Homo sapiens: one gene and its partners. The protein of the gene in region 1 purifies or fractionates together with the protein of each later gene. This does not show direct contact. Each region holds a gene or a part of one and is shown in the gene's direction. Other genes may lie near its edges. The genes, in order: LUC7L2, CLK3, SNW1, PNN, GPATCH8, RNPS1 and CCDC9.

The links.
Region 2: the proteins of LUC7L2 (region 1) and CLK3 purify together in Homo sapiens (affinity purification with mass spectrometry; 4 studies listed by BioGRID and IntAct, with this or other methods). This does not show direct contact.
Region 3: the proteins of LUC7L2 (region 1) and SNW1 purify together in Homo sapiens (affinity purification with mass spectrometry; 3 studies listed by BioGRID and IntAct, with this or other methods). This does not show direct contact.
Region 4: the proteins of LUC7L2 (region 1) and PNN purify together in Homo sapiens (affinity purification with mass spectrometry; 4 studies listed by BioGRID and IntAct, with this or other methods). This does not show direct contact.
Region 5: the proteins of LUC7L2 (region 1) and GPATCH8 purify together in Homo sapiens (affinity purification with mass spectrometry; 4 studies listed by BioGRID and IntAct, with this or other methods). This does not show direct contact.
Region 6: the proteins of LUC7L2 (region 1) and RNPS1 purify together in Homo sapiens (affinity purification with mass spectrometry; 6 studies listed by BioGRID and IntAct, with this or other methods). This does not show direct contact.
Region 7: the proteins of LUC7L2 (region 1) and CCDC9 purify together in Homo sapiens (affinity purification with mass spectrometry; 4 studies listed by BioGRID and IntAct, with this or other methods). This does not show direct contact.

The regions. Positions count from the first base shown.
Region 1 is NC_000007.14:139,404,894-139,408,393, forward strand, and holds part of LUC7L2 (putative RNA-binding protein Luc7-like 2), read left to right. Parts: intron 1-750; coding exon 751-894; intron 895-2,280; coding exon 2,281-2,457; intron 2,458-3,500. Other genes in the region: FMC1-LUC7L2 readthrough protein, read left to right, coding at 751-894, 2,281-2,457. UniProt on the Homo sapiens protein: May bind to RNA via its Arg/Ser-rich domain.
Region 2 is NC_000015.10:74,618,836-74,622,335, forward strand, and holds part of CLK3 (dual specificity protein kinase CLK3), read left to right. Parts: intron 1-361; coding exon 362-513; intron 514-1,173; coding exon 1,174-1,390; intron 1,391-3,284; coding exon 3,285-3,381; intron 3,382-3,500. UniProt on the Homo sapiens protein: Dual specificity kinase acting on both serine/threonine and tyrosine-containing substrates. Phosphorylates serine- and arginine-rich (SR) proteins of the spliceosomal complex.
Region 3 is NC_000014.9:77,740,657-77,744,156, reverse strand, and holds part of SNW1 (SNW domain-containing protein 1), read left to right. Parts: intron 1-3,500. UniProt on the Homo sapiens protein: Involved in pre-mRNA splicing as component of the spliceosome. As a component of the minor spliceosome, involved in the splicing of U12-type introns in pre-mRNAs.
Region 4 is NC_000014.9:39,180,987-39,183,720, forward strand, and holds the end of PNN (pinin), read left to right. Parts: coding exon 1-877; 3' UTR 878-2,234; downstream 2,235-2,734. UniProt on the Homo sapiens protein: Transcriptional activator binding to the E-box 1 core sequence of the E-cadherin promoter gene; the core-binding sequence is 5'CAGGTG-3'. Capable of reversing CTBP1-mediated transcription repression.
Region 5 is NC_000017.11:44,423,407-44,426,906, reverse strand, and holds part of GPATCH8 (G patch domain-containing protein 8), read left to right. Parts: intron 1-2,414; coding exon 2,415-2,558; intron 2,559-3,500.
Region 6 is NC_000016.10:2,258,127-2,261,626, reverse strand, and holds part of RNPS1 (RNA-binding protein with serine-rich domain 1), read left to right. Parts: intron 1-3,500. UniProt on the Homo sapiens protein: Part of pre- and post-splicing multiprotein mRNP complexes. Auxiliary component of the splicing-dependent multiprotein exon junction complex (EJC) deposited at splice junction on mRNAs.
Region 7 is NC_000019.10:47,269,489-47,272,453, forward strand, and holds the end of CCDC9 (coiled-coil domain-containing protein 9), read left to right. Parts: intron 1-918; coding exon 919-965; intron 966-1,064; coding exon 1,065-1,200; intron 1,201-1,593; coding exon 1,594-1,699; intron 1,700-1,785; coding exon 1,786-2,190; 3' UTR 2,191-2,465; downstream 2,466-2,965. UniProt on the Homo sapiens protein: Probable component of the exon junction complex (EJC), a multiprotein complex that associates immediately upstream of the exon-exon junction on mRNAs and serves as a positional landmark for the intron exon structure of genes and directs post-transcriptional processes in the cytoplasm such as mRNA export, nonsense-mediated mRNA decay (NMD) or translation.

The DNA.
Region 1 (3,500 bases):
TAATTGGTTTAGCAATAAGTCAGATCTGATGGATTCCTGAACTTGATCCACCAATTCATTTCTTTAACTCATATTTGAGCCTAGGCTATTTGCTGAGCACTAGAGATACAAAGATGGGAAATACAGATAGCTGTCCTTAAAGTAGTATGATATTTATGAAAGGAACTGTCAAAAAAGATACAAAGGTGACACAAAGGAGAGAGTATGGCCATCTTTGCTGATGTGTTTAAGTGGGGCTGGGATGTGGTGACTGTTCAGGAATGTTTTACAGAAATGGCCCTTGAGTTGTATCTTGTTGGAACGAGTGAATATTCAGTAGGCAGGCGAGAGGTAAGGGATCCCATCCCAGAAAGAAGAGTATATGCAAAGTAACAGAGGTAGAAAACAACAGGGTAAGTTTGGGGAAACTATAAATTATGTTGTGAGGTGGGGGAGTAGCAAGAGATGGTTTAGAAAAGTACAAAGGGCCAGATCATGGAAGAAATCGTATTTTACACTAGGAATACACCACCTCGCCAGAGGATAGAAAGTTATATTGGGCCCAGTAGTAGCCCTGACTTCATTGAGGTAAGGCAGGCAGGCTCAGAACATCCTGATGTCTCAGTAGTTCATTTGGGATACGCTCAGAAAGCATTCTTTAACCACATACTGCCTTAGATAACAAGTTTTTTCTCAGCAGTTCTGAAATACTTTGAAATTTAAAATTCATTCTCTTGTTTATTCATGATCTTCTTTTTTATTTCTTTTTAGGCAGAACGTGTTCATGAGTTAAATGAAGAAATTGGTAAATTGTTAGCCAAGGTGGAACAACTAGGAGCTGAAGGGAATGTGGAGGAATCCCAGAAAGTAATGGATGAAGTAGAGAAAGCACGGGCAAAGAAAAGAGAAGCAGAGGTAAATTCTTAATAGTAGTAGACGAATTCTGCTTAATTTGGTAAGACTACAAATAAAAAGTAGTAGATGAAACTTCAGTATCTATACTTCTCTAAGAACATGTATTTGAATGGAAATTATTGAACAGTTGTTAAAGAGAAGTTGAACTAAAAGACAAAAACAAAACAAAACTCGGAAAAAGCTGGTTGTGGTGGTGCGTGCCTTTGGTCCCAGCTATTTTGCAGGCTAAGGTGGATCGCTTGAGTCCAGTTCAAGTCCAGCCTTCTTCTTTTTGTTTTTTTGAGATGGAGTTTTGCTCTTCTTGCTCAGGCAGGAGTGCAATGGCATGATCTCAGCTCACCGCAACCTCTGCCTCCCGGGTTCAAGCGATTCTCCTGCCTCAGCCTCCCAAGTAGCTGGGATTACAGGCCCATGCCACCACACCTGGCTAATATTTATATTTTTAGTAGAGACAGGGTTTCTCCATGTTGGTCAGGCTGGTCTTGAACACCCAACCTCAGGTGATCCACCTGCCTCGGCCTCCCAAAGTGCTAGGATTACAGGCATGAACCACTGCACCAGGGCCTTTTTTTTTTTTTTTTTTAAGACAGAGTCTTACTCTCTCTCCAAGGCTGGAGTGTAGTGGTGCGATCTCAGCTCACTGAAACCTCTGCTTCCTGGGTTCAGGCGATTCTCTTGCCTCAGCCTGCTGAGTAGCTGGGACTACAGGTGTGCACCACCATGCCCGGCTAATTTTTTGTATTTTTAGTAGAGATAGGCTTTCACCATGTTGGCCAGGCTGGTCTTGAACTCCTGACCTGGGGTGATCTGTCCACCTCAGCCTCCCAAAGTGCTGGGATTACAGGCGTGAGCCACCCGGCCTGGCCTGTTTTTTTGTTGTTGTTGTTTTTTAAAATACTTTTGGTAAATTTGTCTTTCAGAAAATCTCTCTAAGTTGTATTTATTGATATAAAGTTGTTCATAGTGTTCTCTTTTAATATCTGTAGAATGTTTGCAATTCGTGTCTTTTCTTAATTAATCTAGCTGGTCAGTTTTATTTTGTTTTTCAAAGAACCAGTCTTCTGATTTTATTGTTTTTTTCTTGTTTTCTATTTCATTGATTTCTGTTCATGTTTATTATTTCCTTATACTCCAGTGGAGAGAGGCGCTAAGGATAGAGGATGGGGATAAAGGGAACCTATAATTTTCATAACAAAATAGCCATGCTTTTGTGGTTTTTTTTTTTTTTTTTTTTTGAGCTGGAGTCTCGCCCCAGTGAGCCACCGTGCCCAGCCACTTTTGTGTATTTTTTAGAAAACACTTTTGGTATAAGCATAGTATATTTTATTTAATTGTATGACTTTTAGTGAGATTTATATGGTCATTGTTTTTCTCACTTTTGTTTAGGAAGTTTATCGGAATTCTATGCCAGCTTCCAGTTTTCAGCAGCAGAAACTTCGAGTCTGTGAAGTCTGCTCTGCCTATTTAGGACTTCATGATAATGACAGACGACTGGCTGATCATTTTGGGGGTAAACTGCACCTGGGATTTATTGAAATAAGAGAGAAGCTTGAAGAATTAAAGGTACATTGGTAAAATATTCCTCACTTTATCCTCTTGTTCTTTTGATCTGTATCAGTTGCCTTTTTGTACAATATTCTTGACTATGATTCAGTAATATAGTATCTAATGATTAATACTAAACAGTGTAGGATTATAGATGGAAATTCAAGTTGGTTTAATGGATGCTGCCTGAGAAACAGACTTAATATTATCCTGTTATTTTGGGAGTTACCATTTTATATTAGATATGACACCGAGTTAGGGATCTTTCAAACTAGTTACTAAAAGAGTCCCATAAAACTTCATTGTTATTGTTCTTTTCAATAAGGTCAATAAGAATGTAATAATATAATATTTATAAGAAGTTTGAGAAAATGAACCCAATATTAATTTGAAATATTTTGCAATTCTTTATTAAATAGCAAGCTTGCAGAATCTCTAGTTTTATTTTATGCTCCTGCTTCCACTTCAGAAAGGACTTATGAAAAAATTTATATTTTTTTAAAAGGACAATCACTATTACTTAAATAATATAGGCTTTTGTGGGGAAGACAACACAGTTTTTACTCTTGTTGTTTAGAGGGGATAAACACAAAAAAGCATGGTGATATTTCTGAAGTGGTAAAGATGAGTGTTGGTGGATATAATCTATTTACCTTTTAATATGCTGATAGCTTTTTAAGAATTGTGGCACTGTAGTGTTTTTTCATGAATTGAGGTCTGGCTGACAGATAGGAAACATGGGATAGTCATTTTCTTTGTAACTGTTATTGTCAACTGGAATTAACTCAAGGTCCATAGCATTTAAAATAATATAGAATCAGAAAATGCCTAGGGACATCTCCATATTCTCAGGTAACAGTGGGCTCTTTTCAGTATTCTGAGTAGCTAGGGTGATCTCAAGTAATTTTTTAAAAATTTCGAAAAGAGTCACTATAGCAAATAGTTACTAGGCTCCAAGTTAAAACTCCAGTGGTTCCTACTTGGGAGTCTTTGCAGATAGACCTAGCAACAGAACTCAAGCATTTTACTCATATCTTTAAAAAGCAGCAGCATCAGGATGG
Region 2 (3,500 bases), on another chromosome or scaffold:
GGAGGCTCCCCTTTCTCCTGCCTTTGATCTCCCTGTGGTAGTGTTCACCGTCCCCACCCAGGGTTACTGCCTCAGCCCCTGGCCCTGGCTCACCCAGTTCCCTGAGCACCCAGGCCACCAGGCTAGTGATGCTCTGCTGGGAGCTGTTTGTTTGTTCACTGGCAGAGAAAGTTGTTTCCTATTGTCTGCTGTTTGACCAGTGTGACCTCAGAGTTCTTCTTCACTTCATAAACCTCTGGGAGGGGCCGCCTTCAAACAGAACAATGGGCCTCTTCAGGAGCAACCGGGAAGCCCCAGCAGCCCCATGGCTGGAGGTGGCTGGCTGTGTGTTTAGCAGGGCTCTCTGTTCCTCGTGGCCTAGATGCATCACTGTAAGCGATACCGCTCCCCTGAACCAGACCCGTACCTGAGCTACCGATGGAAGAGGAGGAGGTCCTACAGTCGGGAACATGAAGGGAGACTGCGATACCCGTCCCGAAGGGAGCCTCCCCCACGAAGATCTCGGTCCAGAAGGTGAGAGGGAACTAGATAGGAGGGAAAGACTCCTTCTGTCAGCTGGGCTCAGCTGTGGCAGCTCCAGACTCCTTGAGATGACTCCATCCCTGCCCAGCTGTCCCTGGATCCCTGCCCTGTCCTCTTTGGGCTCCTCCACTAACCTCACCTGCATGCCTTGGCCTCAGCAGTAGCTACCATCCTTGCCGCCCACTCTTTCTCTGTCTTGGAGTGCCTTTTCTTCTCCCCACACATTCCCCCATTTTCTAGGCCAGCATCTTTCCGCTTAACCTCCTAAGCCTTCCTTGGTGAGGATTAGGAACATAACCTCACCCCTGGAAAGTTTGCTCCCTGGGCCTATCTTAGCTCCCAGGTCAAACTTAGAGTTGCAGCAGGCCACAGGGAACTCTGGAAGGGTATAGAACCCTTGGAGGCACTCTACCATACTCCCCTTCCCCTGTACCCCTCCTCCTACAGCTGGAGGATGCTGTCGTTGGACAGGGCTCTGGAGGGCGGGCTTAGTACCTTTGCACCCTCCCCTCTCTGCCCACTTCCCACCAGTGTGGATGCTTTTAGCACAGGCTGTCCCCCTTTAGCCCTTTACAGTGGCCTTACCACAGGTCTCTTGCTTGCTAACAGCAAGGACCCAGCTGACCAGCGTCCCCATCCCCCTTTTGGCAGCCATGACCGCCTGCCCTACCAGAGGAGGTACCGGGAGCGCCGTGACAGCGATACATACCGGTGTGAAGAGCGGAGCCCATCCTTTGGAGAGGACTACTATGGACCTTCACGTTCTCGTCATCGTCGGCGATCGCGGGAGAGGGGGCCATACCGGACCCGCAAGCATGCCCACCACTGCCACAAACGCCGCACCAGGTCTTGTAGCAGCGCCTCCTCGGTGAGTGGTAGCCAGAGTGTGCTGGCTGGGGCTTAAAGGCCTCATCTCTTCCTAGCCTTCTCTCAGGCTGGCTGGTCCGGGTGAGTACTGCCAGCCCTGTGCACGTGCACTGGTGTGCGTGCATGTGTGTGTGTATGTGTTGTCTGGTCCAGGTGTAGGGCTGATCACAGGGTCCTGGCCTCTGTGTCTTCTGGCTCTTTCCAGTGGCAACTGTAGGAACTCTGGCTCCGATGCTGGCTGGCCCCTGGCCTGTCTATGTCTACACAGTGCTCCAGACAAAGGCCACGTGGTGCAAGTGGCTGGGGACACTTCTTAGGACACTTCTTAGGGATCCTAGTAGAGTGGCTGGTATGGTGGTCTGCAGCTATATGGCCTGGTCCTTCCCACCCAGAGACTGCCTCCTCGTGTAACTGAGTGCTCTGATGTGGACTGCACCCACCTCTGCGTCTCATCTGCACACCCCTTCCCAAAGGCCCCCAGTCTGGAGTGCCTCACAGGACCGGAGGATTTGCCTGTCAGCCAGCTCAGACTGGGAACTTCCCTTCTGATCTCCAGCCAGGCCCTCTCCAGCCGAGCCTCTTTACGAGGGGCAGTCGCGGTGAGGAGGGGCAGGTGCCTGTGTGATGGGGCATGTGAAGAAATGGCAGAAAGGCTGCCGCCCCAGGCCTCGTCCAGTTGCAGGCCACATGCCCAGAGCAGGGCCTGGCCAGTATTCCTAGCATGGAGGGTTGTAAGGTCTCTGGAGCCCACATTGCGCTCAGTCCCCTGGGGAAGCAAAGCCAGTTGTGTATTTCCGAGGTTACGTGCGGTCTTCTCTTCTCCCCCATCCCTCTTCCCTGCCTCCCTCCTGCCGGCCTTGAGGCCCCTGAGGAGCAGTGGAGAGGCCAGGTGTCTTCTCTGCCCAGCGCTTTCTGTGACTTCTTTGAGTGGCTACAGGTTGAGGGTTGACTGTGCGGGCGATTGCAGCGTGGCCCTTTCACCTCTTTGCACACTGCCACATGCTGCCACAGGATGGCAGTGCAGGTCTGGCTCTGTTTCTCTGTTTGGTGCCCTCTATCGATCGTCGTGAGGCTTGGGATGGGCCTAGATTGTGAGCAGCATGGGTGCCAAGGCCAGGGCAGGAGCTGGCATGGGGCCTGTGTGGGCCATTGTGGTAGGAAGCCTGGCAGTCGACTGGCCCAGAGGATCCCAGGCTGCTTTCCTTCTTGAGGCTGGTGGCAGGAGGGCTGCTGACGGAAGGCTGTTTCTGGTAGTGATGGTGAAATCTGGCCAAGGATGCCGTCTGGAGGCAGGTAGCAGCTTGGCTGTGAGTGGCAGCTGTCAGGCATGTGCAAGTCTGCGTGGGCGAACAGAGGCAGGCAAGGACAGGCTGGGCATTCTGCAGCTGAAGCCGGAGCAGCCGCTGACCAGTCTGGATGGTTGGACCCAGGCGGGGCCAGCTGCCTTCTTGCGCCGCCGTTCTCACTGCATCTTCCGCTCTGGCCCAAAGCCACATGGGAGGGTCTGGGAGGGAGAGACTCGGAGGAGGAGGAGGAGGGAGTCGGGGCGATGGCTCTCCTCACAGCGTGGCCCTCAGCAGCAGAGGCAGGTCATCTTCCTGAGCGTTTGTGGCGCTCCTCTTAAAGATAATGTCCGAGTTTTCTTTACATACCTGTAGCTGTTTTTACTTTTCTGTTTTTGAAGTCAGTTTGTGTCTTGACGTGTCCCTTGCAATATCCCTATCGTTATATATGCTGTGTGCCTTATGAAATGCTGGGATCTGGAAAATCCAACCAACCAACCCACCGGCTCCTCACCGTCTCCACCTCTGCCTTTGACTGACACCTCAATCTGTCAATCGGAACCGCCTACCATGCGATTGGTCGGATGGCGTTTCGGGGGGCGGTGCATGCAGAGAAGCCAACAGAGCAGTAAGCGCAGCAGCCGGAGTGTGGAAGATGACAAGGAGGGTCACCTGGTGTGCCGGATCGGCGATTGGCTCCAAGAGCGATGTACAGCCACCTTTCGTAAAACTTTACCTCTCTACTTTCTACCCCCCTTGTTAGACGAGACCTCTCCTGCCTGGAGGGGCCTCTAGTGCGCGTGGTGCCTTAGCGGGGCCACCAGTAAT
Region 3 (3,500 bases), on another chromosome or scaffold:
TTTTTCTTTTTTTTTTTTTTTGAGATGGAGTCTCACTCTGTCACCCAGGCTGAAATGCAGTGGCACGATCTTGGCTCACTGCAACCTCCCAAAGTGATGGGATTACAGGCATGAGCGACTACACCCGGCCAGATCGTTGCTTTTGTCTGTAATGCAGCCACTAGAAACAAACCCCAAACTGGGACCACTCTCAGGTTTATATCTTTTTGTTTGTTTGTTTTCTAGAAGTGGATAGATTCATGCATGAAGTTTGGAATGCATTGAGTAATTCAACATTAATCAAGTAACTATTATGTGCCATTGGCACTGGGGGAGCACTTTGATTGTTTAGGACCATCTTCAGCATTGTACAATGTTTAGCATAAGTGGCACTACCTATAAATCCCAGTAGCGTCCCCATCCTACCCCCATTGTCTTAACTAGAAACACCTCACACATTTACAAAGGCACTGGGAGAGAGGAGTTAGAGGTGGCAGTGATGCCCTGTTTGACAATCACTGATTTTCCTGTTTTAGAAGAAATAGAAATGGACTGCATAATATATAAAATAGGATTTAAAAAATTTGTTATTCCAGAGACTGAACAGGTTATTGGATTTATGAATTTGGACTAAGATTTCTGATTTGCTTCCGAGAGGTCTGGTATTCTTCAGAAACGAGGGAGTTCTCACTGAAATATTAATAGTGAATGAGTAAGAATGGAAAATACTAGGTGTTAGGTATAAGAGGTGAGAAGAATCAGTGAGGATTCTAAGACGTAATATTCTAGGACAAGTCTAAGGCAATTCTCTACATGTGAAGTAAGTACTGTGTATACGACTTATTAGTCATACAAAATTGGGGATGAAAAAGTTTTTTTTAGTGTAAATCTTGATACAACCAAATGCTTTTTTTTTCCTAATTATGAAAGTGATAAATCTTTTTTTTTTTTTGAAACGGAGTTTTGCTCTTGTTGCCCAGGCTGGGGTGCAATGGCACGATCTCAGCTCACCGCAACCTCTGCCTCCCGGGTTCAAGTGATTCTCCTGCCTCAGCCTCCTGAGTAGCTGGGATTACAGGCATGTGCCACCACGCCTGACTAATTTTGTATTTTTGGTAGAGACAGTGTTTCTCCGTGTTGGTCAGGCTAGTCTCCAACTCCCAACCTCAGGTGATCCACCCACCTCGGCCTCCTAAAGTGCTGGGATTACAGGCATGAGCCACCACACCCAGCCAAGTGATAAATCTTGAAATAAAGGGCTTGGTGTATGTATTTTTCCCTCTGAAATAGTTATGTAAGAAATACTACATACAGGCCAAGTGCATTGGCTCATGCCTGTAATCCCAGCACTTTGGGAAGGTTGAGGTGGGAGGATCATTTGAGGCCAGGAGTTTGAGACTAGCCTGGGCAATATAATGAAACCCTATCTCTTAAAGAAACGAAATGTTACACACGTACTATACCCAAAAGAATGCCTTCAACGTATTACCCCTAAAAAACCGTAACAACTTTAAACTGACCCCATGATAAATTATATGTTATCTTGTTTGTATGATTTCACACACTAGCTAAGCTAGATTAGCGTTTTCTTTCTACCTCACATAGTGAATGTTTTGACAGGCTTATCCTTTTAGTCAGTCTAGTTCTTTGCCAGTTTTCTGTAATAAAATATCTGTTTCACAGATGAGTTACTACTTTATCTTGTTGACAAAGCTTATTTGTGCTTCTGATACTTTCAAGAGTATATTGTATTTTTCAGAAAACGCTCCCCAGCCCATTTGCCTCCTGGTACTCAGTTTCCTCAGCACATTTAATTCTCAGACTATAAAAATTTGGGGTTTTGGCCAGGTGCTGTGGCTCACGCCTGTAATCCCAGCACTTTGGGAGGCCGAGGCGGGTGGATCGCCTGAGGTCAGGAGATCGAGACCAGCCTGGCCAACATGGTGAAACCCCATCTCTAATAAAAATACAAAAATTAGCTGGACGTGGTGTCATGCGCCTGTAATCCCAGCAACTTGGGAGGGAGGCTGAGGCAGGAGAATGGTTTTAACCCGGGAGGCGGAGGTTGCTATGAGCTGAGATCACGCCATTGCACTCCAGCTTGGGCAACAAGAGCAAGACTTCGTCTCAAAAAAAAAAAAATGGGGGGTTTTATAATTAATTACTATGGAGGAATCTTGCTCTTCAGATGTCCTTCACTCAGCCTTGTGAGATACTAGAATCTTATTGATGCTCATTTGAAGGGTTATTAACTTTGGAATGCCCAAATAAGGAGCAGCAAATGACTCTTGTATGCTAAATTAGTATTGACACTTTATGTTGAACATACATGACTACCAGGGAGCCATTTACTTAGAATCCTTTCCTTATAACCGTTGCTATGGAGAAGTGATAAACTCCTCATGATTAACTCTTCATAGAATTGGTATTTTTTTCTTGTGTTGTTATATAATTTTCAGCTTAGGGTTGTATAGGTTTTTCCATGCTGAGAGGAAATAAGACTTTTGAGGTCAGATAGTAGCTGTATGATCTTAATGTACTGAACCTCACTCTTTTCAGTAGAGTGAGCTTTATGGTCCCTTCCAAAATCAACACTCTTAGAGTATGGTGACACTAATAACTCACATATCAGTAGTACGTGTTTTGTGCTAAATCATCTTAGGCTTTCTTACCTGATCCCTCTTCTCACTCCTGAGAAAAACAAGCTGGAGATTTTAGTGTATAGCCATGAGATAGTTTTTTCTGGGAAATCAGTAGCTTATAGAAAGTTCTGTACGGCCTAAAATATAAACTTATTTATTTATTCATTCATCCATCCATTCTTTAAAATAGAGATAGGTCTTGCCATGTTGCCCTGGCTGGTCTCGAATTCCTGGGCTCAAGCTATCCTCCAACCTTGGCCTTCCAAAATGCTGTGATTACAGGCGTGAGTCACTGTTCATGGCCTATAAACACCTTTAGCATGTAACAGAATATCTCTAAAATTCATTTATTTATTCATTTGTACAAAAAATATTGATCAAATATCTCCAGTCATTATTATAAAGCACAGGAGACACTTTTTTTTTTTTTTTTTTTTTTGGAGACAGTTTCACTCTTGTTGCTCAGGCTGGAGTGCAATGGCATGATCTCGGCTCACTGTCACCTCCGTCTCCTGGGTTCAAGCGATTCTCCTGCCTCAGCGTCTCATGTAGCTGAGATTACAGGCACCCACCACCATGCCTGGTTAATTTTTCTGTTTTTGGGAGAGACGGGGTTTCACCATGTTGGTCAGGCTGGTCTTGAAATCCTGACCTCAGGTGATCCACCCACCTCGGCCTCCCAAAGTGCTGGGATTACAGGCGTGAGCCACCGTGCCCTCCCCGTTTTTATTGTTTTAATACGGGAGACAGATAATAACCATGTAAAGTAGATAATTTCATGCTGTGAACAGTCTTGATCACAGTAAACAGTGCTATGGAGCAAATGATTGGGTGGGGAGGGGTTACTACTAAGGCAATCAGAAGAAGCCTCGATAATGG
Region 4 (2,734 bases), on another chromosome or scaffold:
ACCAGAAATGGAATTTGAAATTGAGCCAGATAAAGAATGTAAAACCCTTTCTCCTGGGAAAGAGAATGTCAGTGCTTTAGACATGGAAAAGGAGTCTGAGGAAAAAGAAGAAAAAGAATCTGAGCCCCAACCTGAGCCTGTGGCTCAACCTCAGCCTCAGTCTCAGCCCCAGCTTCAGCTTCAATCCCAGTCCCAACCAGTACTCCAGTCCCAGCCTCCCTCTCAGCCTGAGGATTTGTCATTAGCTGTTTTACAGCCAACACCCCAAGTTACTCAGGAGCAAGGGCATTTACTACCTGAGAGGAAGGATTTTCCTGTAGAGTCTGTAAAACTCACTGAGGTACCAGTAGAGCCAGTCTTGACAGTACATCCAGAGAGCAAGAGCAAAACCAAAACTAGGAGCAGAAGTAGAGGTCGAGCTAGAAATAAAACAAGCAAGAGTAGAAGTCGAAGCAGTAGCAGTAGCAGTTCTAGTAGCAGTTCAACCAGTAGCAGCAGTGGAAGTAGTTCCAGCAGTGGAAGTAGTAGCAGTCGCAGTAGTTCCAGTAGCAGCTCCAGTACAAGTGGCAGCAGCAGCAGAGATAGTAGCAGTAGCACTAGTAGTAGTAGTGAGAGTAGAAGTCGGAGTAGGGGCCGGGGACATAATAGAGATAGAAAGCACAGAAGGAGCGTGGATCGGAAGAGAAGGGATACTTCAGGACTAGAAAGAAGTCACAAATCTTCAAAAGGTGGTAGTAGTAGAGATACAAAAGGATCAAAGGATAAGAATTCCCGGTCCGACAGAAAGAGGTCTATATCAGAGAGTAGTCGATCAGGCAAAAGATCTTCAAGAAGTGAAAGAGACCGAAAATCAGACAGGAAAGACAAAAGGCGTTAATGGAAGAAGCCAGGCTTTCTTAGCCATTCTTTGCAGCAGAAGATTTCTTGATAAAAAAGGATTACCTTTCCTTGTAAAGAGGATGCTGCCTTAAGAATTGCATGTTGTAAAAAATCTTTTTGGAAAATACAGACTGTTTGTTTACCAGACATTCTTGTACTTTTTGCATAATTTTGTAAGAGTTATTTATCAAAATTATGTGAGGTTCCAAAATATGTAAAAATGATAATAATAAAAAAAGATTAACATCCCTTGTCATCTTTTTTAAATATCCTATACTCTTCAGTAAGAATCTGTATATTTTAATAGGCAAATCTTTAAGTCTGTTCCCTTCTAATTCTGTATCATACATTGCTTTTGTAGAAATAAATGTGTGTTTATTTCATTATTTTTGGGATGTCCTCGTTGACACTTGTATAATAAATATCCTCTTTATCATTTTCAGCTTTTAACACTAGATACTGCACGTGATTAGAATGTTTTTGAAGGTTTCCTCGTTTTTATTTGCCTTGGACAGTTTTTAGTTGTCAGAGTCAGAGCTTTGCAGCTTTGAGGGGGAACAGTTCTCTTTAAAATCATTTGCTATTTTCTATTCTCCCTTGTTATTTTAATCTAAGCATTTTCCCCCGTTTCTCATATTTTAACCATATGTTCGGTAGATAACTAAACAGTATGATCTGGTTGGCATTTTCTTCCTGATGATGGGAGCGTCATTCTTTTGTCTTCATGGTTACTTGTGTGATATAACATACATCTGTTAAAGAAAATCACTTCTTTCTAGGGGAGGGAGGTAGAAAAGTATCTTTCAAACTTGGTTTTTGAGTTTGTGTCTTGTCTTAACTTTGTGTTGGCTCTAACTTAAACATGCTGATATGTGTTTTCAAGAATTTTGTTTAAGGAAGTATTGTATGGAAGTCCACAAAATGAAGGAAGTTCATCTAGGTTTTAATATGTAAGCAAGATAACACACAAGTGTACCAAGTGATTATTAACTTTGTTGTTTTACAAATTTGTATGAACTTGGAGTATCTGTTGGCCATTACTATACATGTGCAAATAAATGTGGCTTAGACTTGTGTGACTGCTTAAGACTAGTACTTGTATTAACTTTCTGATGCTTTATACAAGAGAGCACTTAAATTGCATCCTTCTTTGAGTTTAACACTGTAGCTTTAGCCTTGACTTTGAATATTCATTTTGCCTTCCCTTGACAAGTAAATGGTTACAGTGAAAATGTGAAGAAGTATTTCCAGTTAGTTTTTGTGTGTATATAACTCACTTGTGTAAGTGGATGTGTTAAAAGATCTCTTTTTAAAAATCCTTTTATTGGAGTAATTATTAAAACAGTAAATGCATAGAGCTTTGCACAGCAATCTGTATCCATGAGCCAGTTCCACCACTAGTACCTTCATCTGTGGCTTATCCAGCAAAATGTTTCATTTCCTGTGTGCCCTGGCAGGAAAGAGGTTGGTAAATAGTGAATTAAAGGGATGATCATAAAATTTAACCTGGTTAAAAAGCACCTTATTTGATGACAGTTTGTATGCACTAAAATCCTTTATACAAATTAAGTTTTGTCTACTGATTTGTACCTGGAAAATCTGAACAATATTCATGTTGCTTACAGAAAAGGCTAGTATTGGCTTGAAGCTCTACTATAGGAGGGGTAGTAATGGGGGTATAATGAATGCTTGAGGGGAAAGTAATTTTCAGTAATTTCAGTTAAGCGCTACTGATCATAGTATGTGAAAGGAATTTTTCTTATATGGAATGCTTGATGAATTTGCATGTCATCCTTGTGCAGGGGCCATTTTAATCTTTTTTTTTTTTTTTTTTTTTCTCGGAGACAGGGTCTTA
Region 5 (3,500 bases), on another chromosome or scaffold:
GTCTTCTGGAGTTGAGAGAGAGTGTGAGAGAGAGAGAGAGAGAGAGAGAGAGAGAGAGTGTGTGTGTGTGTTGTTGAAGAGATCAAAGGCTGGCCTGATCTTCCCCTTCTTGATTGTTTTTGCCTAGCTGCTGAAAGGAGTCTGTCTTTAAGATTCAATAACTTTACTACACTATTGATTGTCACTGATTGTTCTGGGACCATTTTCATTGTCACACTATGTGCCCTTTCTTGTCCTGTGTAGTTGAGTGGATCTTCCTTTAGTGAGCATGTGCTGATAGCCTTTTTTTTTTTTTTTTTTTTTGAGACAAGGTCTCACTCTGTCACCCAGGCTGGAGTGCAGTGGCGCAATCTTGGCTTACTGCAGCCTCTGCGTCCCAGGCTCAAGTGGTCCTCCCACCTCAGCCTTTCAAGTAGCTGGGACCAAAGGCAAGTGACACCATGCTCAGCTAATGTTTTGTATTTTTGGTAGAGCCGGAGTTTCACTGTGTTACCCAGGCTGGTCTTGAACTCCTGAGCTCAAGCCATCTGCCTGCCTCGGCCTCCCAAAGTGCTGGGATTACAGGCGTGAGCCACCGCACCTGGCCTCAGCCTTTTCTTAGATCTGCCGCAATTGGGCAGAACTTTTTGCTTTTCTCTATGTGCATTCTTTGTACTGCAAATGTTTCCTCATCCACCCTAACCCAAGTTCATCCCTTTGTTCTTCCCAGATCTCAGAAATTCTTGATGAGTGCAAGAGATGTAGGTATATTCATTTCAGAGGATCCTTTTATGTACAGGATATATGTTTTGCCATTTTCTGAAATTGCCACCTTTGGCTTTTTTGATATTGCTTAGCTTTGCCTTGTCTGGCTTCTACTACATTTCCCTCATTCAGGTTCTATAAAGAGCTTAACTTTCCTTCTGTGTGTTTTTCATACTCCAGATCATATCTGTTGCCCAGTTCTTCTGAAAATGCAGTTGGTGGGGTTTTTTTAATTCATAATTTTGTTTTTATGATACCCAAGAAGAAAATCAAAGCTGTTTTCCTATACTGCTGTATTCATACCAGGAACTCTAGTTTTGTTGCTTAAATTTGCAGCCAGGTGTGGGGGCTGACACCTGCAATGTCATCACTTTGGGAGTCCAAGGTGGGAGGATCACTTGAGCCCAGGAGTTCATGACCAGCTTTGGCAGCATAGTGAGACCTCATCTCTACAAAAAATACAAAAGTTAGCTAGGTTTGCTGGTACACGCCTATAGTCCAAGATACTTGGGAGGCCGAGGTGGGAAGATTGCTTGAGCCCAGGAGGTGAAGACTGCAGTGAGCCATGAACTGCACTGTACTCCAGCCTGGGCAAAAAAGCCACAAGTCGTTTAATAGCCAAACAACATGAAACTGTCCGGGACTGTCAAAGAAAATTATTGTGAAGGATTAGATAGGGCAAAAATAACAATGTGCTACACATACTCACTTTTCAGTTTTAATAAGTCTGTCCAAATTAGTTCAGTACTGCCACTCCAGAAAATAATAACCTTTTCTTGTTTACTGATTAAGTAGCTCTTATGGGAGATGATAGAGCTGCTTTGAAACTGTAGATATAGTCTTTGAGATAAGACTTATCTTTTTTAGGTCAGTCTGCTAGAAGGAGTTGCTCATTATGAAAGTAATGCATCTACCCTGCTCTAAAAGTCAAGCAAGTAGTCACTTAGCATTCCTGTCCCTTTCTCATCCTTCTGTGCGACATTAGCAAATGAATATACTCAACTTGCTTTGAGGTATCTTTTAATTGTTTTCTCTTTTTTCCTTTTTGAGATGTCTTTTGATGTCTAGTTTTTAAGTGAAACTGCTGAGGCAAATTGGACTGCCTTTGAGTCAGTCCCACAGTTTTTTGTTGTTGTTGTTTTTCTCCAACCTCCTCTCACATGTAAGAGTCCCACAGTTTTCAATCTCGCTGAGACCAGCAGATAACACATATCTGTGGGTTGGCTTTCCAAGCAGTGCAGCTTATATGTAGAATGACCATAGAATATTTAACTCCATCATTGGCTACAGACTCAGGTAATGCTTTTTTCCTTCGTGTCTGAAAACTAGACTATTAATACAGGTTGTATATCCCTTATCCAAAATGCTTGAGACCAAAGGTGTTTCAGATTTCAGATTTTTTGGGGGTTTTGGAATATTTGCATTATACTTATCAGTTGAGCATCCTTAGTCCTTTTAAACATTTGTTTATTTGAAGACAATTGTTAGTATGACGACACACAGATTACCCACCAAAGTACCACTTGTGTTTCATCCAGCTTTTACTGGTACCACTAAATATTATGAAAAGCCCTTTTTTGTCTTCTCAGATAGACTGTTTTCTCTATAACATTCACTTAAAGTTTTACCAAGTTCATTTTTTGTTTCTTTGTATTTCATGGGTCTTGAAGGATTATGTTGACAAAGAGAAGGCAATTGCCAAAGCCTTGGAAGACCTCAGAGCCAACTTTTATTGTGAACTGTGTGATAAGCAATATCAGAAACATCAGGAATTTGATAACCATATCAACTCCTATGATCATGCACACAAGCAGGTGAGTTGTAGTTACTTGCTAACAGAAGAAGGTACCTATCTATTGTTACAACAATTGGATTTTATGAGTATACCCCCCAAAACTTGGTGTCTATGATTTCTTGTGTCTGCCAATCTTTATCTGCAGTCATCCAACACACTTTGTTTTTTCAGTGGCAGAAATCCTGACATAGACACCACCTCCAGCCCACACTCCCACATATACACTATTTGACAAATTGTGTTTTGTAAATCTTATATAATGTTTTTGCCTTTTATTGATTTCTAAGTTTTTATTTAATTTTGTAATTCAGCTGAGGGTCACTGGGAGCTTTGTTTCCATTTCTGCTCTTAACGCGTTAAACTTTGAAGAGTTATTCAGCAGACTGTTATTTTCAAGTTCCCTACATAAGATTTCATGCTTTATTGGCTACCATTTTCTATTATTAAGTCATTTTGCTATTCAATATACCTTGGAAGTTAGATAAATTTTGAGAAGGAAAATAAAATTAGATGCTATCTTAACTTTAACAAAAAACTCTGTTGCTGCATGTTGAAGAGCTGATAAATGAATTACACTTTGCAGTCTTTGCCCCCTCCCCCGCCGCCACCCCATCATTTTAGAGGAGAAAATTGTACCTAACTAGTTACTGATATACAGAAGATGGCAATAATCCCCCTGGGAGAGTTTAGAAGGGAAAAATAAATTGTTACACCTATAGGACAGTTCTGGCTTGTTAAAGAATTTCAAGCCATTTGATCTTGGGTGACTTTAACATAACTTACTAGGTTTTTGGGGGGTACAATAGTTGTATTTGTTAAACTTGTAAATTTATGAGCATTGGAATGATGTCTCCTAAGCTGGACTTGTTGAACTAAGATTTTTTTTTAGCCTTCATCTTCCACCAACCATAAGATTTCAGTGCACAGGTAAAAGGCAATCTTTGACCAAGTTTTATTCTTA
Region 6 (3,500 bases), on another chromosome or scaffold:
TTAATATTTAACTACTCAGACAGTACTAAAACACTTGTTACAGAGGCCTGCGTTAGTGAGACCTGGCCTGCCACAATCCCCACTGTCAATTTGCTCATGCTTTTTATCATGCATGTATATGTATTTATTAATCACGAGAATCGTAGGGAGATGAAGCATTGTAATCTTTCTGGCTGCTTCCTGCTGAGAGAGGGTTGTCGTCATGGGGCACCAAACACAGCGCTGGAGTGGAAGAGGTGGATTTGTTCCCGGTAGCACTTTCTGTTCTGGGGGCTTCGAGGCAGCACCTGCTGAAACGTAATAGGATGCAACAGCCACACATAGAAGTAGGTTGCTGCTGTTTTCTTCCCAAGTTTAGTCTTCAGTTTACAGGGCTTGAGGAAAGCATAGCTTAGATTTCAGTGATTTCCAATTAGGAAAAAGGAAACAAAAAAGGAAAAAATTGAGAACAGTATTTGGGTGTACTATAGTTTTTGAAACAATTTTTTTTTTTTTTTGAGACGGAGTCTGGCTCTGTCGCCCAGGCTGGAGTGCAGTAGCACCACCTCGGCCCACTGCAAGCTCTGCCTACCAGGTTCATGCCATTCTCCTCCCTCAGCCTCCCGAGTAGCTGGGACTACAGGCGCCCACCACCATGCCTGGCTAATTTTTTGTATTTTTAGTAGAGACGGGGTTTCACCGTGTTAGCCAGGATGGTCTGGATCTCCTGACCTTGTGATCCGCCTGCCTCGGCCTCCCAAAGTGCTGGGATTACAGGCATGAGCCACCATGCCCAGCCAACAATTTTTTTTGGGGGCTTCCCATTTTTATTAAAAGACAAATAGGACTGGTATTTATTAAAAGACAAGACTGGTTTGCTTTATTATATTTGGCTTAATTATTTGTATACAGTGGAGCAAGAACCATAATTTTTTCTATAGGCCTTTTATCTGAGATAATACCTTTTTAAACCCAAGCCCAGCCATGGATATGTACAATTAAATACCTGTGAGTTGGGTGAAATCCTCTCCTCTTGAGGTTCCAAGATAACTTGAGGTTTTTGTCCATTAGAAAGTGGCATGTTTTACTTCCCTCAGATTAGAAACCCTGTACAGGGACTGTGTACACAAAATAGGAGGCCGGTTTTTTATTTGTGTTCTGTTACAAAAGAAAACGGATTTTTATTGCACTTACGCAAATAACTATATTGCTATAAATTAAGAATACGTACAAATAGACTGGGCAACATGGATCACCTGAGGTCAGGAGTTTGAGACCAGCGTGGCCAACATCGTGAAACCCCGTCTCTAATAAAAATACAAAAATTAGCCGGGCATGATGGCACACACCTGTGGTCCCAGCTACTTGGGAGGCTGAGGCAGGAGAATTGCTTGAACCTAGGAGGCAGGGATTGCAGCGAGCCAAGATTACGCCACTGCACTCCAGCCTGGGCAACAAAGTGAGACTAGGTCTCAAAAAAAAAAAAAAAAAAAAAAAAAAGAATACACACACACACACAAATAGTTTCCAAATTCTGAAGAAATTAGGTAGAGAGAAACAAATATGCTCCAAGTTTTGTTCCTAGGCGTATACTTAATTGTTGATAGCTTAAAACTTTTTTTGACTTTGAAAAATAAAAGGATTAGGAATATTTTAAGCAAAAAGTTAAAAAGATTACTTCAGTGTTCTATTAGTTCAGTTTATGCAGTTAATTTCTGCCCTGCTTGATATTAATGAACGCTTTACCTTTCTTTTTTTTGAGACGGAGTCTCGCTCTGTCGCCCAGGCTGGAGTGCAGTGGCGCAATCTCGGCTCACTGCAAGCTCCACCTCCTGGGTTCACACCATTCTCCTGCCTCAGCCTCTCGAGTAGCTGGGACTGCAGGCACCGGCCACCACACCCAGCTAATTTTTTGTATTTTTAGTAGAGATGGAGTTTCACCCTGTTAGCCAGGATGGTCTGGATCTCCTGACCTCGTGATCCGCCCGCCTCAGCCTCCCAAAGTGCTGGGATTACAGGCGTGAGCCACTGCACCCGGCCTTATTTTAGCTCTTTAAGAGTCCTGAATGTTTTTTCTTTATTCTGATGTCACAATCTGCAAAGTTATTAGAAATCTGTATTTAAGAGCAACTGTTAGAACTCTATAGCTGATTATAAAACCACCTTCTAAAAAGGATTAAAACAAGACAACAATTGTTTATGGATGACAAAAAGGTTTTAGGGCAGCCATAGTTAAAGACACAATTGACGAAATTTGTTAGCTCTGTGGCACACAATAATTTAACATAACAATTATAATTATTACTGATCATGTACACTAGGATATATTGCAATTGTAGGAGTTTTACGTGATTTTGGGACACATATCAATAACATTTATACAAATACAGCCCAAACAAAGCCAAACCCAATTTTATATTTGGTAGTGCTTCCTGTATAATTTTTGGTACCAAATAAGCCAAATTTCACTTTTACATCAGTGTGCTGTTAATGTTAAAACCCAATCCTTTTTTTTTTTTTTTTTGAGACTTTTTTCTGCTCTTGTTGCCCAGGCTGGAGTACAATGGTGCAATCTTGGCTCACTGCAACCTCCGCCTCCTGGGTTCAAGCAGTTCTCCTGCCTTAGCCTCCCGAGTAGCTGGGATTACAGGCAACCTCCACTATATCCAGCTAATTTTTGTATTTTTAGTAGAGACATGGTTTCACCATGTTGGCCAGGTTGGTCTTGAACTCCAGACCTCAGGTGATCCACCCGCCTTGGCCTCCCAAAGCAGCTGGGATTACAGGTGTGAGCCACTGCGCCCGGCCTAAACGTAATTTTAATGCTTAATTTACAGAAAAACTAGATGATACCCCTTTAACTTTAGCCAGCATGTTTACATACAGAATTTTCTTTACAATCAACCTCCCACACCTTTTTTTGAGACAGAGTCTTGCTCTGTCGCCCACGCTGGTGTGCAGTGGCATGATTTTGGCTCACTGCAACTTCCACCTCCTGGGTTCAAGCAATTCTTCTGCTTCAGCCTCCCCAAGTAGCTGGGATTACAGGCTCCCGCCACCACACCTGGCTAATTTTTGTGTTTTTAGTAGAGATGGGGTTTCACCATGTTGGCCAGGCCTGTCTCAAACTGCTGACTTCAGGTGATCCTCTCGCCTCAACCTCCCAAAGTGCTGGGATTACAGGCGTGAGCCAACGCGCCCGGCATGGATTCCAGTTCTTAGTGGGTGTGTGATTACCGAAAAGATGTTTTAGGAACACCTTTTTTTTGTAGCTCCAGTTTAAAGGAACACTATTCTTGGGGGAAAAAAATTAGCAAATATGCGTAGATTAACATTTTAGAGAGTTTCCAATCTGTTAAAAGCTTAAGGATCAAATTCAGTTTTCTTACATAGAATACATTTGGCTTTTTATATGGGAATATTTCCTTTAATCATTTCTGAGAACCAGAAGTTTCCCAGTATTTCAGCATTTTTAGTTTATTTTGCTGAGTGACTGGATTTACTGAATCTATACAGTTTAT
Region 7 (2,965 bases), on another chromosome or scaffold:
TACAGGTGCCAGCCACCAAGCCCGGCTAATTTTTGTATTTTTAGTAGAGATGGGGTTTCACCCTGGTCTCGAACTCCTGGCCTCAGGTGATCCGCCCACCTGGACTCCCAAAGTGTTGGGATTACAGGCGTGAGCCACCGTGCCCGGCCCTAATATTATCTTAGCTGGGGGTTCAGGAAGGCCTCTTAGCAGAGCCCTGAAAGGAGGTGAGGGAGTGAGCCAGTGAAAAACGTGGGAAGAACGTTCCAGGAGCAGGCGCTAAGGCCCTGAGGCAGGAGCTAGGTGTGGTGGAAGAGCCTGCTTAGCTGGAGAGGTGAGGGAGACTGGTGGGAAAGGTCAGATAGGGAGTTGTGGGTCATGTACTTGGGCAAGGGTCTGTGGTGATCCCCCCAAATTTTTGTTTTGGCGCCCACATTCTGAATCTTTTTGTATTTGTCACTATGCTGTCAAATTTGCCTCTTGCCCATCACCTGGTCCTATCCTTTGTTTTTTTTTTTTGAGATAGGGTCTCCCTCTGTCACCCAGGCTCGAGTACAGTGGCTTGATTACTGCTCACTGCAGCCTTGACCTCCCAGGCTCAAGTGATCCTCCCTCCTCAGCCTCCCGAGTAGCTGAGATTACAGGCACGTGCCACCACGCCCAGCTAATTTTTGTATTTTTTGTAGAGGTGGGGCTTCACCATGTTCACCACGCTGGTCTTGAACTCCTGGGCTCAAGCGATCTGTCTGCCTCGGCCTCCCAGAGTGCGGGGATTACAGGCTTGAGCCACCATGCCCGGCCCTGTCCTACTTCTAGTGTCCCCTGTCTGGTTGACCGTCTGTCTCTGATCCGATTCCTGACCCTGACCTCTCCCATCTTCTTGATCCTCTTGTTACCCTGTTCCCCCAGCTGCCCGCTCACCCGTTATCTTTCCCCCAGGTTCAAGGATGGCCCAGTCCCTGCCCATGAACCATCCCACCGCTATGGTGAGTGGGTGCCCTTGGATGAGCTGAGGCTCGGTCTGGGAGTCAGGGGTGGTGTGTGCCACACCTTCCCTTCCCAATGACACCTGGGTTCTGTTGCAGATGACCAGGCCTGGGCCCGGCCCCCGAAGCCCCCTACTTTTGGGGAGTTCCTGTCCCAGCACAAAGCTGAGGCCAGCAGCCGCAGAAGGAGAAAGAGCAGTCGGCCCCAGGCCAAGGCAGCGCCCAGGGCCTACAGGTGGGGCACCCCTTCTGCGGGCTTGCATACCCCCAGGGCTCTCCGCAGGGCGTTCTCTTCTTTGGCTTGCTGTGAAGGTGTGGGTACATCTGTCTGTCCCTGTCTTTGTCTTGGCCCTGTCTATCTCGCAGGTCCGTGGTTTGAGGGGCTTGGGATCTGGCTCTTGGTTTTACCCTCATCTGTCCCCTTTCTGCCGTCACCCATCTCCTCTCCTGCTACCTGCCCCACTTTCGTTCTGTCCTTGACACATGGGGACACACATCCGCCATTCCCTCAGCCCTCCACCATGCCAGATGCTCTGGGCAGCTCCTCCCTAGGGAGGGTGGAGGCAGGAAGCCCCTTCCTCCTGTCTACTCTCCACCCAGGCATCACCCCTCCCTCTGTTCCCTCTAGTGACCATGATGACCGCTGGGAGACAAAAGAAGGGGCAGCATCCCCAGCCCCTGAGACTCCACAGCCTACTTCCCCCGAGACTTCCCCCAAGGAGACACCCATGCAGGTGAGGCTGGGCTGTGGTTCAGGGCACGGGCCTGGGGTGGGGGCTCAGGACCTGTGCCTTGCCCTGACTTGCCTGTGTCCCCAAAGCCACCCGAGATCCCAGCTCCTGCCCACCGGCCTCCTGAAGACGAGGGGGAAGAGAATGAGGGGGAAGAGGATGAAGAATGGGAGGACATAAGTGAGGATGAGGAAGAGGAGGAGATCGAGGTGGAAGAAGGTGATGAGGAGGAACCAGCCCAAGACCACCAAGCCCCAGAGGCTGCCCCCACCGGGATCCCCTGCAGTGAGCAGGCCCACGGAGTCCCCTTCAGTCCGGAGGAGCCCCTGCTGGAGCCCCAGGCCCCTGGCACGCCTTCCAGCCCTTTCTCACCACCCAGCGGCCACCAGCCTGTGTCCGATTGGGGTGAAGAGGTGGAGCTGAATTCTCCCCGGACCACTCACCTGGCTGGCGCCCTCTCCCCGGGTGAGGCCTGGCCTTTTGAGAGTGTATGAAGCTGGCTGCCTGTGTGTGTGTGTGTGTGTGTGTGTGTGTGTGTGTGTGTGTGTGCGCGCGCGCGCGCGCGCGCGCGCGCGCTAGAGGGGTGTGGCTGGTGGGGGACCCTTGGGGCTGGGCCCTGGGACCCAGTGTGCCCCACAGCCCTGTCAGCTGAGGGGGTAGCGCAGCCCATGCTCTTCTGTACTGTCATGCCCGTCTCTGGAATGTCCACTCCCAGAGCCTGCCCCAGCCCTTCGAGCCCCCTCCCCAATAAAGAATTCACATCCTCCAATGACATTCCCCCAGGTGTGTCCTTGAACCCCCTTCAACTCCCCCTGGGCCTTCTCTCTTGGGGTGGGGAGATGTCAGGCGGGAAAGGGGGCTTGACTGGGGCTCCCCTTCCCTAGGAGGTGGCCAGTCAGCCCCTGCCTTCCCGGAGAGTGGGCCCAGCCTCCGAGGAACCCAGGAAGCTGAAGAGGAAGGGTCTGAGGCAACTCCAGGTGGGGGAGTGCATGGGGCATGGGATGGAGGCCGCTGCTTCCTCTTTCTCTGGGGCTGAGGGGCAGAGGGCTTGGGGGGAGTGGGGTGAATGTGTGTAGGTAGCAGTTGGACCATAGAGGTGAGGTGAAAAGGGTGAGCTCGGATAGGGATGGGGGGCTGGAGCCGGGTGGCAGGGGTGGGGCAAAGGGGCAACTTTATGGGCCAAGCCAATAGGAATTTGGTATGGAGGTTGAGGAGGTGGGGTTAAGGAAAGGATTAGAATTTTGGAGTCGAGCTCAGGGGTTTTGGAAA